2 linked regions of the Homo sapiens genome follow. The protein of the gene in region 1 binds, or shares a complex with, the protein of each later gene. Each region holds a gene or a part of one and is shown in the gene's direction. Other genes may lie near its edges.

What was found.
Region 2: the proteins of SIRT3 (region 1) and ACSS1 are in contact, whole or in part, in a crystal structure (PDB 3GLT), measured with the Homo sapiens proteins. Residues at the interface, in NP_036371.1 of Homo sapiens: Gly145, Ala146, Gly147, Thr150, Pro151, Asp156, Phe157, Arg158, Ser159 (codon at 961), Glu177 (codon at 1,015), Phe180 (codon at 1,024), Gln228 (codon at 1,168), Asn229 (codon at 1,171), Ile230 (codon at 1,174), His248 (codon at 3,658), Ile291, Val292, Phe293, Phe294, Gly295, Glu296, Pro297, Leu298, Gly319, Thr320, Ser321, Leu322, Glu323, Val324, Glu325; in NP_115890.2 of Homo sapiens: Ser640, Gly641, Lys642, Val643, Met644, Arg645.

The regions. Positions count from the first base shown.
Region 1 is NC_000011.10:225,826-234,174, reverse strand, and holds part of SIRT3 (NAD-dependent protein deacetylase sirtuin-3, mitochondrial), read left to right. Parts: exon of another isoform or gene 1-435; intron 436-640; coding exon 641-832; intron 833-959; coding exon 960-1,192; intron 1,193-3,468; exon of another isoform or gene 3,469-3,622; coding exon 3,623-3,723; intron 3,724-8,093; exon of another isoform or gene 8,094-8,349.
Region 2 is NC_000020.11:25,019,167-25,027,515, reverse strand, and holds part of ACSS1 (acetyl-coenzyme A synthetase 2-like, mitochondrial isoform 1 precursor), read left to right. Parts: intron 1-3,874; coding exon 3,875-4,050; intron 4,051-4,423; coding exon 4,424-4,576; intron 4,577-5,979; coding exon 5,980-6,127; intron 6,128-7,368; coding exon 7,369-7,506; intron 7,507-8,349. UniProt on the Homo sapiens protein: Catalyzes the synthesis of acetyl-CoA from short-chain fatty acids. Acetate is the preferred substrate. Can also utilize propionate with a much lower affinity. Provides acetyl-CoA that is utilized mainly for oxidation under ketogenic conditions.

The DNA.
Region 1 (8,349 bases):
CGTATGTTCCAGACATTTGGTAAAACGCCGTTTATGTGTTTTTCAGTGACTCACAAACATTTTATTTACGTAAATGAGGAATGTACTCAGGCACCCTTCGTGATACCTTGCCCTCAGCAGGCACTCAACAGCAATAATAACTTTCATTCCTTTTGTGCTTCTCTTAACAGTTCGTGTTTAGTAGGAGCACAGTAGCTGTTTGGGGAACGACCTTAAGTGAATAGATGTCTGAAATGCTGTGTGAAGTGGGGCGCTTAATAGGTGGTGAGATGGTTTTAGAACCAGGGTTTTCCCTCTTTGCTTCTTGACTCCTTAACCAGTTTTCATTAGGAGACCCCTTTGGAGGTTTGCAGTCAGTCAGAGTTGAGTGCCTACTGAGTGTACTGAATTATGAAATGAGCACAGTTCCCATTAACCTGAATTTTTTGCTCCCAAGTAAGTCTTGATTTCTGATTTATGACTGCTTTTTGTTGTACCCCAATAGTCGTCTAAGAAAGGTGATTATTTTGAGAGGCCTGGGGAGACACACATGCTCATTCTCGAGGGTGGCGGTGGTGCAGAGGGCAGAGCCATGCTCGTTCTTGCTATCCTGAGATTGGTTGCTATCTGTTTCCTTTGCTGCTGTGTTTTTTTCTGTCAGTATTAAAGGTGGAAGAAGGTCCATATCTTTTTCTGTGGGTGCTTCAAGTGTTGTTGGAAGTGGAGGCAGCAGTGACAAGGGGAAGCTTTCCCTGCAGGATGTAGCTGAGCTGATTCGGGCCAGAGCCTGCCAGAGGGTGGTGGTCATGGTGGGGGCCGGCATCAGCACACCCAGTGGCATTCCAGACTTCAGGTACTGCCCACAGTCCCACCTGCCTTCTGCGCTCCCCTCCCCTGACTCCTGCCCTCCCCACTGCCCAGTTTATTCCACTTCCCTGTCCTCTTCCAAAGGCCTCAGAGCCTTTCTTCTCTCCCTGCAGATCGCCGGGGAGTGGCCTGTACAGCAACCTCCAGCAGTACGATCTCCCGTACCCCGAGGCCATTTTTGAACTCCCATTCTTCTTTCACAACCCCAAGCCCTTTTTCACTTTGGCCAAGGAGCTGTACCCTGGAAACTACAAGCCCAACGTCACTCACTACTTTCTCCGGCTGCTTCATGACAAGGGGCTGCTTCTGCGGCTCTACACGCAGAACATCGATGGGCTTGAGAGAGGTGAGCCCTCTGTGAGTCGCACACATTCTTTTTCTCCCACGGAGGCTCGGGTGCCTGTTTCTCCCAGGGAGGCTCGGGTGCCTGTTTCTCACAGGGGATGCTCGGGTGCCTGTTTCTGGGGACGGCCAAAACCTATCGCTTATGCTTCTTCCTTGGGACTTTTTTTGAGCCAACTAGTTAGGGCTTTGTTCCCAAGGAAAATGTCCTCTGGGTGTTTAAAGGCCACTGCTTGTTCTCCTGCATACCTGCAGAGCTGTGTATTTTGGGCAGAAGTTGACATTGTTTTGCCAATCTGGTGTGATGATCTCTTTTTTTCTTCTCTCTTTTAAGAAGTGTATTATGGAATTTTTTTGAGCACACACAAAGAGAGCAATGTAACGAACCGTCCTGTCCTCATCACCAGCACACAGCCAGTTCTTCCTGCGTCCTCACCACCTTCTTCCAAATCCCCAGATTATTTTGAAGCAAATCTCTCACATCATGAATTTAATCTAGAAATAATCTATAAACACATGAATGGATAGCTCTAGAGAATACTTTAAAAACAACTCCGGCCGGGTGCCGGATTACAGGTGTGGGATCACACCTGTAATCCCAGCATTTTGGGAGGCCGAGGCAGGTAGATCACCTGAGGTCGGGAGTTCGAGACCAGCCTGGCCAACGTGGCAAAACCCCGTCTCTACTAAAAATACAAAAAATTAGCCAGGCGTGGTGGTGTGTGCCTGTAATCCCAGGTACTCGGGAGGCTGAGACAGGAGAATCTCTTGAACCCAGCAGGCGGAGGTTGCAGTGAGCCGAGATCGTGCCACTTCACTCCAGCCTGGGCGACAGAGGGAGATTCTGTCTCAAAAAAATAAATAAAAATAAAAATAATTAAAAAATAAAAACAACTCTGATAGTGATTCACACTGAAGAATCACTAGTAATTCCTTAATATGGTCACACTTAGTCTGTGGTGATTTCTTGACCGTATCCATATGGTGCCCAAACCAGCGATTCACAGGTTGTGCCAACTTCTGGCCGTGCACCTAACGGAAGCACTTGGTGGGGCCTTTTCCTTACGTGCAGTGATGCAGACAGGTGCTGGGACAGTCAGCTCTCCGGGAGCCAGGCTCCCGGAGAGACTGCTGATGTGTTGTCAGTTAAAAAGAGGTGGCACCTTGGCTCCAGGAATGTGTTTCCTTGCCAGAAGGATCCCCTGACTTGGAACCACAGAGGCAGCAGCGGATGCCCCATGTTGGTGGGCTCTTCTCCCAGAGGTGCAGCAGGGCAGGCCTTGTGGGAAGGTGGGAGCTCCTGGCTGTGAGATTCAGCACTGCTGAGTTAGGGCAGCGACAGGGACTTGGGAAGCCTCCTGCAGCTGGGACCCTGGCTGTGCCACCGCAGCCTTTCAGAACCAGTTAATACTAACACAACTTTCATAAGAAGTCACTTTTTGTCTGTTTCTACCAAGCAATTCTTTTGGAATTTATGATATTTATATCCTCATTTTAACTTGGTATCTGTAGAATAGAAGATATGTTCCTGGATATTAGATATAAATTTTTGAGACAGGGTCTTGGCTCTGTTGCCCAGGCTAGAGTGCAGTGGCATGATCATAGCTCACTATAGCCTGAACTCTTGGGCCGAAGTGATCCTTTTGCCTCAGCCTCTGGAATAGCTGGGACTACGGGCATGCACTACCATGCCTGGCTAATTAAAAAAATTTTTTAAGACAAGTCTCACTATGTTGCTGAGGCTGGTCTCAAACTCCTGGCCTCAAGTGATCCTCCTGCCTTGGCCTTCCAAAGCACTGGGATTACAGGCATGAGCCACTGCACCCAGCCTGGTATTAGGTGTAATTTTTTTTTTTTTTTTTGAGACAGAATCTCGCTCTCTTACCCAAACTGGAGTGCGGTGGCACGACCTCAGCTCACTGCAACTTCCACCTCCCGGGTTCAAGCGATTCTCCTGTCTCAGCCTCCCCGAGTAGCTGGCACTACAGGTGCCTGCCACCACATCTGGCTAATTTTTGTATTTTTAGTAGAGGTACGGTTTCACCATGATGGCCAGGCCGGTCTTGAACTCCTAGCCTCAAATGATCTGCCCACCTCGGCCTCCCAAAGTGCTGGGATTACAGGTGTGGGCCACTGTGCCCGGCTGGATATAATTTTATTTGAGCTTTTATCAAATGGTTTTTCGTACTGAGTTTTGACAGGCTTTGTTTTAACCGTGATTTGGCTCCAGCTAGGTGCCCCTTTGCTCCCCTGCCTTATTCTGGTTGATGGCGCATGTAGGTGATACGGGCATGAAAACCAGGCTTGAGGACATCACAACCCCAAGGGGCTGTGCCTCCTTCCAGGAGTCCTGCCAAGCCCAGAAGTTGTGCTCTTGGCCTTGCGTGCTCATCTCGGAGGCGGCAGCAACACTTCGCTTTGGCTTGAATTTCAGTGTCGGGCATCCCTGCCTCAAAGCTGGTTGAAGCTCATGGAACCTTTGCCTCTGCCACCTGCACAGTCTGCCAAAGACCCTTCCCAGGGGAGGACATTCGGGTGAGTTATCCTGCTGTTGGTTGTCCTTCTGCAGTTTGCTGTTGGGGTGATCTGGAAAAGTGGTATTTTATAAGCATTGTCTCGAAAGGACAGTTGAACAATAATAGTGTGAAACATTTTATTTGTAAATTAGAAAATCAATACATGCTTGTAAAAAAATTTAAGACAATATAGAAATATGTAGGGAAAATGAATCTCCCTTCAGCCAATTCCAGCTGCCCACTTTTTTTTTTTTTTTTTGAGATTGAGTCTCACTCTGTCGCCCAGGCTGGAGTGCAGTGGGCGATCTCGGCTCACTGCAACCTCCGTCTCCCGGATTCAAGGAATTCTTCTGCCTCAGCCTCCTAAGTAGCTGGGATTACAGGCGTGAGCCACCACGCCCGGCAATCAGATGGCCTTTTGTGCCGAGCTTATTTCCTGAAAATGTTTCTCGCTCCTTCGCCTTGTAGCTTGTGTTAGTATTTCATCCTGTTTCATGGCTAAATGTTCCACTGATGTATGCACCACAGTTGGTTTGTTTGTACATGGATGGGTGTTTGGGTTGTCCCACCTTTCTGCTCTTGTGTATAGTTCTGCTGTGGAGCATATGCAAGTATTCGTTTGAGAGTCCTTGTTTTTTATTCTTTTGAGTATGATACCTACAAGTATTGCTGGGTAACTCCACGTTTAGCTATATTTATTTATTTATTTTTTGAGACACAGTCTTACACTGTCACCCAGGCTGGAGTGCAATGGCGCGATTTCGGCTCAATACAACCTCTGCCTCCCGGGTTCAAGCGATTCTCCTGCCTCAGCCTCCTGAGAAGCTGGGATTACAGGTGCCTGCCACCATGCCCAGCTAATGTTTTTTGTATTTCTAGTAGAGATGGGGTTTCACCATGTTGGCCAGGCTGCTCTTGCATTCCTGACCTCAGGTGGTTCACCCGCCTCGGCCTCCCAAAGTGCTAAGATTACAGGCGTGAGCCACCATGCCCTGCCCATGTTTAACTTTTTTGTTTGTTTGTTTTGAGACGGAGTCTAGCTCTTATCACCAGGCTGGAGTGCAGTGGCGCAATCTCGGCTCACTGTACCATCCGCCTCCTGGGTTCAAGCGATTCTCCTGCCTCAGCTTCCTGAGTAGCTGGGACTACAGGCACACACCACCACGCCCGGCTAATTTTTGTATTTAGTAGAGTAGTTTCACCATGTTGGCCAGGATGTCTCGATCTCTTGACCTCGTGATCCGCCTGCCTCTTTCTCCCAAAGTGTGGGATTACAGGCGAGAGCCACTGCGCCCGGCCCGTTTTAACTTTTTGAGGAACGAATATACTGTTATCTGCAGAAGCTGGACCATTTTACATTCCACCAACAGTGGGCAAGGGTTTCATCTTTTCCACATCCCAACACTTACTTTCCATTTTTTAATTACAGCTATCCCAGTGGGTGGGAGGTGGTAACCCACTGTAGCACTGATTGGCATTTTCCTAATGATTCATGATATCAAACATCTTTCCATGTGCTTTTTGGCCATTTGTATATCTTTGGAGATTGAAGTCCTTTGCGCATTGTTTAATTGTGTTGTCTTTTTTATTGTTAAGAGAGTCCTTTATATATTCTGGAAGCTAGATCCTTATCAGAGACATGATTTGCAAATATTTTCTGTCATTCTGTAGGTTGTCTTTTTTACTTTGTTGATGTCTTTTGATGCATAGAAGTTTTGATTTTGATGAAATCTAGTTTGTCTATTTATTTTCTCACTCTTTTGGAATCATATCTGAGAAATGGTATTGTTTTACTCCTGTTTTCTTATAAGAGTTTTATAGTTTAAAGCTTTTACATTTAGTTCTTTGATCCATTTTGAGTTAATTTTTGTGTGCGCTGTAAGGTAGGGATCCAGCTTCATTTTCTTTTATGTGGATATGTAATTGTTCCAGCACCATTTGTTTAAAAAAACTGTGGTCTTGGCATTGTTGTTGAAAATCAGTTGGCCATAGGTGTATGGGTTATTTCTAGAGTCTCAATTCTATTCCATTGTTATCTGTATATCCTTGTGCCTGCACTATAATGTTTTGGTTACTGTAGCTTTGTAGTAAGTTTTGAAATTAGGAAGTGTGAGTCCAGCACATAGTAGAAACTTGATATATACGTATTATTGTTTTGGTCAACTCATTCATTGAATGACCAATTTATTCAACAAATAGTTTAGTCTCCTCAGTGCCAGGCCCTTTGCTGGGTTCTGTGGATGTGAATAGAAATTAAAATAAGGTGGAGTCATCCAACAGTTACAACTGGGTGCCATACGAATTTTACTATAAATATGTACTGGACACTACACTGACTCAGCTGTAGGAACAGAGTAGGCTGGGAAGCACCTTTGAGATGAGGCCGTCTGGATGTAAGAGTCTGTTTCTGGCAGCAGAGACCTGGAGTGTGGGAGGCCTGCTTGCTCTGTTAGGGTTTGAACTGTATCCTGACGATCATGGGAGGCATTGGAGGATTTTTAGGCAGGAAAATGATGTGAAGGGATTTGCATTTAAAAGAGATTATTTGGGACTGGGCACAGTGGCTCACGCCTGTAATTCCAGCACTTTGGGAGGCCTAGACAGGCGGGTCACCTGAGGTGGGAAGCTTGAGAGCAGCCTGCCAAAATGGTGAAATCCCATCTCTACTAAAAATACAAAAATTAGCCAGGTGTGGTGGTGCACCTGTAATCCCAGCTACTCAGGAGGCTGAGGCAGAAGAATTGCTTGAACCTGGGAGGGGAGGTTGCTGTGAGCTGAGATCGCACCACTGCACTCCAGCCTGGGTGACAGAGTGAGACTCCATCTCAAAACAAAATAAATAAATAAATAAGAGAATAAAATAGATAATTTGGGCAACAGGTTGATGTTAATTCCCCACCTTTGTTCTTCTCCTTCAGTACTGTGTTGGCTGGTCTGAATCTTTTGGCTTTTCATATAAATTTCTGAAACTGTTGCTATCTGTTCTCTGCCTGTTTTATTTTTGTTGTTGTTGTTTGGATTTTTTGTTTTTTTGAGATAGAGTCTTGCTCTGTTGCCCAGGCTGGAGTGCAGTGGTATGATCTCAGCTCATTGCAACCTCCCCCTCTCAGGTTCAAGCGATTCTCTTGCCTCATCCTCCTGAGTAGCTGGGATTGCAGGCATGCGCCACCATGCCCAGCTAATTTTTGTATTTTTAGTAGAGATGGGGTTTCACTATGTTGGTGAGGCTGGTGTCGAACTCCTGACCTCATGATCCACCCGCCTCGGCCTCCCAAAGTGCTGGGATGACAGGCATGAGCCACCGTGTCTGGCCTCTCTGCCTGTTTTTTAAGACTTTTGTCTTTGGAGTTTTGCGGTTTCTCCACTGTGGTTTTCCATATGAATTTTCTTTTATTTCTTCTGCTTAAAATTTGTAGGCCAGTTGGTCATGGTGGCTCACGCCCGTAATCCCAGTACTTTGGGAGGCCGGGTGGGTGGATCGCCTGAGGTCAGGAGTTTGAGACCAGCCTGACCAACATGGAGAAACCCCATATCTACTAAAAATACAAAATTAGCCGGGCGTGATGGTGCATGCCTATAATCTCAGATACTCGGGAGGCTGAGGCAGGCGAATTGCTTGAACCAGGGAGGCGGAGGTTGCGGTGAGCTGAGATTAGGCCATTGCACTCCAGCCTGGGAAACAAGAGCGAAACTCCATCTCAAAAAAAAAAAAATAATAATAATAATTGTAGGCCTTCCTTAAGAAAAATAAAATAAAATTCTAGGCTGGGCGCGGTGGCTCCTGCCTGTAATCCCAGTACTTTGGGAAGCTGAGGCGGGTGGATCACCTGAGTTAGGAGTTTGAGACCAGCCTGGCCAACATGGTGAAACCCCGTCTCTACTAAAAATACAAAGATGAGCCATTTGTGGTGGCACCCATCTGTAATCCCAGCTACTCGGGAGGCTGAGGCAGGAGAATTGCTGGAACCCAGGAGGCAGAAGTTGTAGTGAACCGAGATCATGCCACTGCACTCCAGCCTGGGTGACAGAGCGAGATGCCATCTCAAAAAAATAAAATATAAAATAAAATTCTAAGCCCTGCAACCAACTGAATGGAGCCCTCCCCTTGGTCAAGGGAACCCCAGAGAAACCTTGGAAGCTTGAGTTCCTGGCCGTAGCAGGAGAGGAGGTCAGACGCGCCTCACTGTACCCCTCCCTCCCCAGCCACCATTAGGCTTCTTCACTAAGGGCTAAACAGAAACCAGCCCTTTTCAAAGACTCTACACTGCTAATGTGGATTACTGGTTTATCTTCCCAGATACAGATTAAAGACAAGATGAGATTAATGGTTCCTTCACCCTTCCCTGAGAGGTCTGCTTAGTTCTCTTCCTCTGTTTCCTTCTATCTTAGGTAAAATGTACATTTACTGGGCACTTACTGAAGTCTCACAAGTACGTAACCACTCACCTCACAGCCACCCTCCCTCTTTGAAGGACCACATGTAATTACTAAACCTCCTGAGAACCTCTTGGGACAGAAACAAGCACAGATGTGCCGTGACTCATGTTTTTCCTGTGGGCACCCTCAGGCTGGCTCAGTAGCCCTCACTTGCTTGAGATCCTGAATCTGCGGGTTGGCGTCTTTCATGGTTGCTGGATCATACTCT
Region 2 (8,349 bases), on another chromosome or scaffold:
GTGTGATGTATTACAGTGATTAATTGTTGCATGTTGAACCACCCTTCCTTTCCTAGGGTAAGTCCTGATTGGTCATAGTATATTCTGTTAATATGCTGCTGGATACAGTTTGCTAGCATTTTGTGGAAGAGTTTTGTATCATTGTTTATATGAGATATTTGTCTGTAGTTTTCTTTTCTATAGTAATCTTTGTCTGGCTTTAGTATCAGGGTAATGCTGGCCTCATAAAATGAATTTGAAAGTATCTCCTCTTCAATTTTTTGGAAGAGTTTGAGAAGGATTGGTGCTAATTCTTTAAATATTTCATAGAATTCACCAGTGAAGTCATCTGGTTCTGGTCTTTAGAAAGGGAAGAAGATGGGTAAACTGAGACACAGAGAGTTTAAGTGACTTACCTAAGGTCACATACCTAGTAAGTGACAGAGCCAGGAGTTGAACACAGACATTCTGCTGCCATAGTTGATGCTTTCAGCATTATGCTAAGCTGCCCCTTTTCTCTCTTGCTGGTGTGGCCATGGTCACCCAGTGCTTCTGTTGAGATTGTTTGAAACAAGCAATAGCAGTTGACTCTTGGTGACTTCATCATGTGGGGATTTAGTAGCTGGATGCTGGGGCAGCTCCCAGAACCTCAGAATTCCTAAACAACCAAGCATGGGAGGGCAGGGGCCATGACTCTGTCCTGAAGAGGACTCTGCCCTGATATCCTTCAGCCTTTTTGTGCAGCTCTGCAGGTACCAGGTTCCTGGGGACAAGATTCTGTTGAGATGGGTATCTGTGTCCTGTTGGGTCAATGAGGGGCTGTTTTGGTTTTCTATTGCTGTGTCACAAACTACTCCAAAACTTAGTGTTTAATAAAACTGAAAACAATAAATTTTAGTATTCTATTTCATGGGTCTGTGGGACAGGAATCAGATGGGGACAGGGGAATGGCTGTTTTCTGCTCCATGACATCTGGGACATTAGTCAGGTTGACTTGAAGGGTTGGGGACTGGTGGGCCTGTCTTTCTCTCCACGTGGCCTCTTCACATGGCTGACTTGGGCTTCCTCATAGCCTTGCAGCCTTAGCAGTCAGGCTTGTCACATGGCAGCACATGGCTCCAAGAGGAAGGAAATAGCAACTGCCAGTGTCCTACAGTCCAGGCTGGCACAGGCCTGGCATCACTCTTGCCTTACTAGATTGGCCGAACCAGTCCGTGGCCATTCTAGATTCAAGGGGAGGAGACCTGGATCCTGCTTCTCTATAAGAGCAGGTGAAAGAATGTGCAGCCATCTTCAGTTGGCCACTGGGAGGTGGGTGTATATTGTGAGTCTGACCGCTAGGCTCTCACATGTCTGGGCAGCCACCTTAGTCAGCAGGTGCAGTTCCAGAGTTCAGTCCCCTGGCCTGGCTTCCAGGGTTGGACCATCCCTCTTCATTTGTCTTCCCTCTTGCTTTAGGCTGCTTGAGGAGTGGAGAGTGTTGCAGGGGAGGGTAGAGGTCAGGAGAATGGCTTTGAGAGAGACTGTGGGGGTAGAATAATGACCCACTCAGATGGCCACACTGTAATCCCCCAGAAGCTGTGCTATGTCACTTGCATGGTGAAAGACTTTGCACATATGAATAAGGCAATAGGATATCCAGGTGGGCTCCATCTAATCCCACATCCTTAATGCACAGAACTTGCTCCAACTAGAGGCAGAGGAAGTGAAGCAGAAGGGGAGGTCAGAGAGATTCAAAGCAACTTTACCCGCCGTTGCTGGCTTTGAAGATAAACAGGGCCACGAACCAGGGCAGGTGGTGGCTGTAGTCGCTGAGAATGACCCCTGGCTGACAGTCAGCAAGGAAAAGGCGACCTTAATCCCTCAGTCGCGTGGAACTGAGTTCTGCCAACCACTGAAATGGCCTGGAGGTGGATACTCCCCCAGAGCCACCACATAGGAGCCAGCCCTGTCCTTGACTTTGGCCTTGTGAGACTCTAACAGAGAACCCCACCAAGCCTGTCCAGACGACAGAACTCTGAGCTAAAAATGAGTGTTCTGAGCCACTAAGTTTGTGGTCATTTGTTATGGAAGCAGCAGAAAATGAACGCAGATGCTGGTACCTGCTCAAAACCAGGGAGAGAAAATTGAATCCTCCCAGAGTGGCATGTGGTTCCTGCCAGCACCCATGCTGTGGCCCAGCCTTGGAGGGCGCCAGTGGGCCAGACATGCTCATGGTGCTCAGAAGCTCCTGGGTACTTCCTAGAGGACCTCCTGGAGAGCCTACTGGGCAGGGAGGCCCTGGACAGGTGCGAGTCAGGAGTGAGGTGTGCGCCTTGGGAGGTGGGGAAGGAACTGCCTGCTGTGTAGTGTGATTTCAGCATGTTGCATGGGCTGGGGTCATTGTATCGTGAGAGCTTCTGACCCCCATGAGCTTTCTTTGTCTCCCGTCCCCTTGAGAAAGGTTCATTCCTTCCTGCTGGTCCATCTCCCTTCCTCGCCCATAGGGGGCTTACCTGGACCAACCCCTGCTTGGGGATGTAGGTCTGGAAAGTCTCTGATAGGCTCCACCCAACTGACTTGGTTTCCCCAGGTGAGCTATCGCTGAGGCTTGAAGGCCAAAGAGTGTGTGTAGCCACGGCTCTTGGTGCCAGATGCAGGGGTGGCTGCATCTGGGCAGGTCTAGGGTATCTCTCTGACCCCCGGATGGTGCTGTGTGTGCTGGAAAATTCTCAGGGAACCCTCATGGCCATGACATCTCCAGGGCTCTTAGGAGGAGAAAGGGTGGGCCTGTTGTGCAAAAGTGCTTTCAGATTTATTTAGGTAGGACTCTCCCAGAGGGGACATTGAGGCCAGAGTCTGTCTTGGAAGTGTGGTAGGGCAGTGGTGGCTCTGGACGGGAATGTGGCACACATGCCTCAAATGGCTCCATGCAAAGGGTAGGGAGTTGCAGGATTTGTACCCCAATTATGGAGAGCCATTGGTCGAGGGTTCCCCAGCACTTCTGCCCATAGCTCTGCAAGAGGCCTTTGGTGCAGAATGACTGAAAGGCCCAAGGGATGTGGGTGAGGCCCTGCCAGTCAGGGTCACAGCTGGGCATTTGTCCCAGGCTCTTCCTGAGGGGCTGTGTAGTAACCCCCCGCAGCTGTGATCCCTCTGGGTCATCCCGCACTGGGGCACAGCGTGGAGGACACCTCCTTTTCCTGGGGTCTTGAGGCCCACTGTGCGTGCACCCCTCTTCTCTGCTCTGGGCCTACCCCTAGGTTAGCCATGGAAGCTAGGGTCCTCCTGGCTTCCCCCTGGGCCTGGCTGAGCAACATTGGTCATTGAAGAGCAGGTGTGGGATCAGGAGGGCCTTCTCCTGAAGGTAAGGTGGGCAGGCAGCTCCCAGTCATCCACTGGGGTGTGGTTTCTGATCTCTGGACAGTGAAGGCTCTTGGCCCACACAAGTCACTCTAGACAGGGCCTGGCCACATGGGACACCTTTGGGCTTGGCCTCTGGTTGTCCAGCTTTCTTGTTCTCTGCCTCTCGGTATTTCTCTGTCACCTTGATTGCTGCAGGTGGCATGATGGCCTCTTTCCTGGGGTTTGCTCCTGGGCAGACAGGAGAGAAAGGTGGAAGTCTGGTTGGGAAATTGTCTTTATGCTGCTGACTCAAGGAGGAAGAGCTGAGCTTCAAAGTAATTTATCTCTGGTTCCTTCCCCTCAGCCTCAGAACTGGACAAAGGCCTGGTGCTTCTTCATGGCACACAAAGGCTGGAGAGCAGGCAGCCCCTCACTTTTTCCATTGAGTCTTTTACTCAAGATTGGACTGAGTTTCTCACACTCCTAGGCCTGGATGTCCTATGTGAGTCAGAGCTATGAGGGTTAAAGTCGGGAGGAGACTGATCAGAAATGTCTGTGTTGTCTCTGTTAGCCAAGTGCAAGGTGGTTATCACCTTCAACCAAGGACTCCGGGGTGGGCGCGTGGTGGAGCTGAAGAAAATAGTGGATGAGGCTGTGAAGCACTGCCCCACCGTGCAGCATGTCCTGGTGGCTCACAGGACAGACAACAAGGTCCACATGGGGGATCTGGACGTCCCGCTGGAGCAGGTGGGTTACCTCGCTTTGCACAGTTTGAGGCGAGGTCATATCAAGTTAGCTGGCTCTGAGGCTTCTCGGGTTGTGGTTCTCAATTTGGGTTCCCTAGAGGTGCCCAGGGTTCCTCTGTGGTATTTGGTGAGCTTGAGTCCTGACTGGGAAGATAAAACTCCTATACGACAAGCATGTTGGAACACTTACTGTAACACAAATGCTTGCACCCACGCTTTTGTTTTGTGTCCTTTCCACATTTGGAATTGAACTTGGACAGGTCAGAGCAGGTGAATTCTGAATCCTGTGTGTGGAGTCCTGCTGCGGAGGGGGAGTGCTGCTCTCAGAGAGGCTGAGTGCCCTCGGTGGGCTGTTTGTTTCTTCTCCCTGCCAGGAAATGGCCAAGGAGGACCCTGTTTGCGCCCCAGAGAGCATGGGCAGTGAGGACATGCTCTTCATGCTGTACACCTCAGGGAGCACCGGAATGCCCAAGGGCATCGTCCATACCCAGGCAGGCTACCTGCTCTATGCCGCCCTGACTCACAAGGTACAGGCCTGTGCGGGCGGTGCTGGGCCCTTGGCAGGGATCCAGGCAGGGGCAGGGCTGGAAGTCCTCCTGCTGCAGAGCGAGGCCTGTAGGTGTGAGAGGTCAGTGTTTCTTCCTGGCCTATTCGGGGCAGGGCCCCCTCGAGTCCTCCCACCCTACAGCTCCTCAGGGCCCTGGCTGCCTCAAGCCCCCACTGCACTGTCTGGAAACTCCCAGATAATCTGATCATGTAACGCGGCAGCAGGACACTAAGGGCCATTCGCCCAAAGATTTTTAAAAACTCTTTTTAGAACAGATAGAGAAAACCACCCAAATTAAATGCATGGCTTAATGAATTATTATAAGGCAAATGCCACTTTGATCAAGAAGTGGAAGGCCACCGGTTTCTCAGAAGCCCCTTCCAGGCCCATATGGCCACAGCCCCGTCCAGCATGTCTTGATGTGTCTTGTGCGCCTGCCCTGTTTTTATTTTGATAGTTTTGTGACCCATATGAGCATCCGTGGGCACTGTAGCTTACTGTTGCCAATTAAAATATTGTTTTTTCTTTTGTTTTGTTTTGTTTTGTTTTGTTTTGTTTTTTCATGGAGTCTCACTCTGTTGTCCAGGTTAGAGTGCAGTGGTGTGATCTCAGATCACTGCAACCTTTGCCTCCTGGGTTCAAGTGACTCTCCTGTCTCAGCTTTCTGAGTAGCTGGGATTACAGGCACCTGCCACCACACCCTGCTAATTTTTTTTTGTATTTTTAGTAGAGACAGGGTTTTGCCATGTTGGTCAGGCTGGTCTTGAACTTCTGACCTCAAGTGATCTGCCCGCCTTGGCCTCTCCAAGTGCTGGAATTACAGGTGTGAGCCACCGTGTCCGGCCTAAAATATTGTTGATATGTGTTTTAAGTCTTTTTAAGCCTATGCTCCCCCATTTCCTTACACTTGGCCATAGTCACATCCAGCCATTTTTCTCTGGTGTCCTTTGGTCTGGGTTGTGCCTGTTGTCCCTCTGCCTCTGTGTTTCCTGCACGTGGGCAGTTAGATCCTGAGATGGGATCAGGCTCCACTCAGTTGCTGTGGAAGAATAAAGGGGATTCGGATGTCTGTCCTCTCATGCTCCTCGAAGCTGATGATGCTTGATGCCATTCTTGGCCTTTTTTGCTTTTATTTTTTGTAGTTCTTAAGGGGTTTAAAAAATCGTGGCATAAGGTAATGCAAAAAGGTGTCCATGTGTTAAACGTACAACTAGACGGACTCTGCAGTGTGCCCACCTGTCCTGCTGCTGGAGGCCATTTGAGGAGCCAGCTGCCTCTCACAGCTATGGACTGCAGCCTATGCATGCCTATTTCCTAGTGACCTGGTGTGAACATGGTGGAGTGGGGGGACAAGCTCCTGATGCTCCTTTCCTGTCTCTGCAGCTTGTGTTTGACCACCAGCCAGGTGACATCTTTGGCTGTGTGGCCGACATCGGTTGGATTACAGGACACAGCTACGTGGTGTATGGGCCTCTCTGCAATGGTGCCACCAGCGTCCTTTTTGAGAGCACCCCAGTTTATCCCAATGCTGGTAAGGATGGTGAACCCTGTTTGGGACCCCATGCTGGTGTCAGGGGAGAGAGCCTGAGGCTCGAGGCTTGTGGAGAGGTTCATGGAAGGGGGACGCCTGGGTTCTGGTGAGGGTGTGGCTCTCCAGGTCCTGCTGTCGAAATGCCCGGTGGGGCCAGGCCCCAGGTCTTCAGAAAGATCTGACAGGCAGCAGCAGGGAGTCTGACTTGGTGCTGGAGGACATCTCAAGGCCCCTGCTCCTGCACTCCTGCCCTCTGACTTAAACTGCCGGCCTCAGGCCATCGCTTTGGCATCCTTCTCACCTCTAGGCTGCTTGCCCAGATCCAGCCCTTTCTCAAAGCCAGGGCCAGCTGCCCGCCACTTCTGTGTCCCCAGCCCTGCCCCTGAGCCTTCAGGGCTGTCCCTCAAACCATGTTAGGCATGGCCTAGAACCATCTCCATTAAATTGAGATCACTTTGAAGACAAGGTGATGACTGGCTCCCTTGGGCATCGTCCTCCCACACAGCACAGTGTCTTCAAATATTTTCTTTAATGTAAGCAGATCATGGTGGCTCTGCCCAAAGGCTGCTGCTCCAGTGTTCCATGGCACTGACAACTGTGCATGGACTGTGTTATCACCTCCCAGTGCTCCATCCCTGCCTTTGGGGGCTGGGTGTGCTCAAGGAAGAAGTTGTAGGGGCAAGACCAGGGATTAAGGGCCATGGCCCAGGTGCTGTCTCAGGCCACCACTTCAGCCCTTAGAAGCTCAGTGTTCCATGTGGAGGGGATGGTGTGGGTAGTGGGTTTACAGGAACCAGGGGTGTGCATGCCGGGCACATGGCCCTGCTCCCTGGGACACACGCAGTGGCAGCTGTACTGTCACCAGGGGAAGCACCAGTCACCACTTTAGAGCCCATGTGAGTGTGATCGAGTGAAAGCTCTGTGTTAATGCTCCATGGGTTATTAAATCCACGTAGTATCACCTTGAACTAGGCCATCACCCTAAGCCTGGTGAAGACTGTTCCTGAATGTGCCGCCCATGGATCTGGGGAGTGCTTGGAGGAGAGCGGCCATTGGGGACCTGTCCCATGGGGCTTCTTTCCATCTTTCACTGGCGGGGGTGGGGGGTTGGGGGGATCCCTTTCATATGGACATATGCGCGTCTGCACATGCCCAGCACTCAGGAAGTCTTGGCTGATCTCTGAGTTTAAAGTAAACCATGTCAGCTCTCCTGCTGACAGTGAATTTCGGCCTTTCTGTAGGTCGGTACTGGGAGACAGTAGAGAGGTTGAAGATCAATCAGTTCTATGGCGCCCCAACGGCTGTCCGGCTGTTGCTGAAATACGGTGATGCCTGGGTGAAGAAGTATGATCGCTCCTCCCTGCGGACCCTGGGGTCAGGTGAGCGGCCTGCCCTGCAGCAGGAGAGGTTGTGCTTGCCCTAGACCCTCAGAGCCAATACGGGCTTCAGCAGGACTTCAGTCATGAAGCTGCCCGGCTTTGTATGTGTGAATTCACGCAATGCCAGACCGGATCTGGTAGAAAGCACCAGCACCTCTTCCCACCTGTAAGCTCCTCCCCAGAGCTGGCAGCAGTTACCTGTCTGGGGAACAACGTTCCAGACATTTTCTGTGCCGTTGTTTCTGTGCCCAATTTCTGTAGCTTAATCTTCATTAGGAATACTTACCCACTCAATAAGTTAAGGGTCAGGTCAGTTCTTTAGTGGCTGCATGGGATTTAACTGTATAACTTAGCTGGGTGTGGTGGCAAAGGCTGAGGTGGGAGGATTGCTTGAGCCCAGGAGTTTCAGGCTGCAGTGAACTAGGATTGCACCACTGCGCTCCAGCCTGGTGACAGAGTGAGACTCAGTCGTCTAAATAATAGTAATAATAGTATAACTACAGTTTGCTAAACACTGCCCCATAGTTGGACCTTTTGATTGTCTCCAAGTCTGTGGAGTGGATACCATCCTGCACTTTTGCCCTGCTGTTACTGTAGACATTTCCAGGCAGACAGTTCAAAGCTTAGGCCTATTGGTAATGTTGATGGATATTGCCAAATCACATGGAAACATTTTGGAAATGTGATGGTGGCATGGTTTCGACAGTATCAGCAGTGTCTGTCTTTCGGGCTGGTGCTGGGAGGGACTGGGTGCTGGTGACTGCTGTTCTCTCTCCTGTCCCTGCCACATTTCATGTCTGCCTTGACGTGTGGTCACGCGTGGTCAGCCACCTGCTTGGTGGC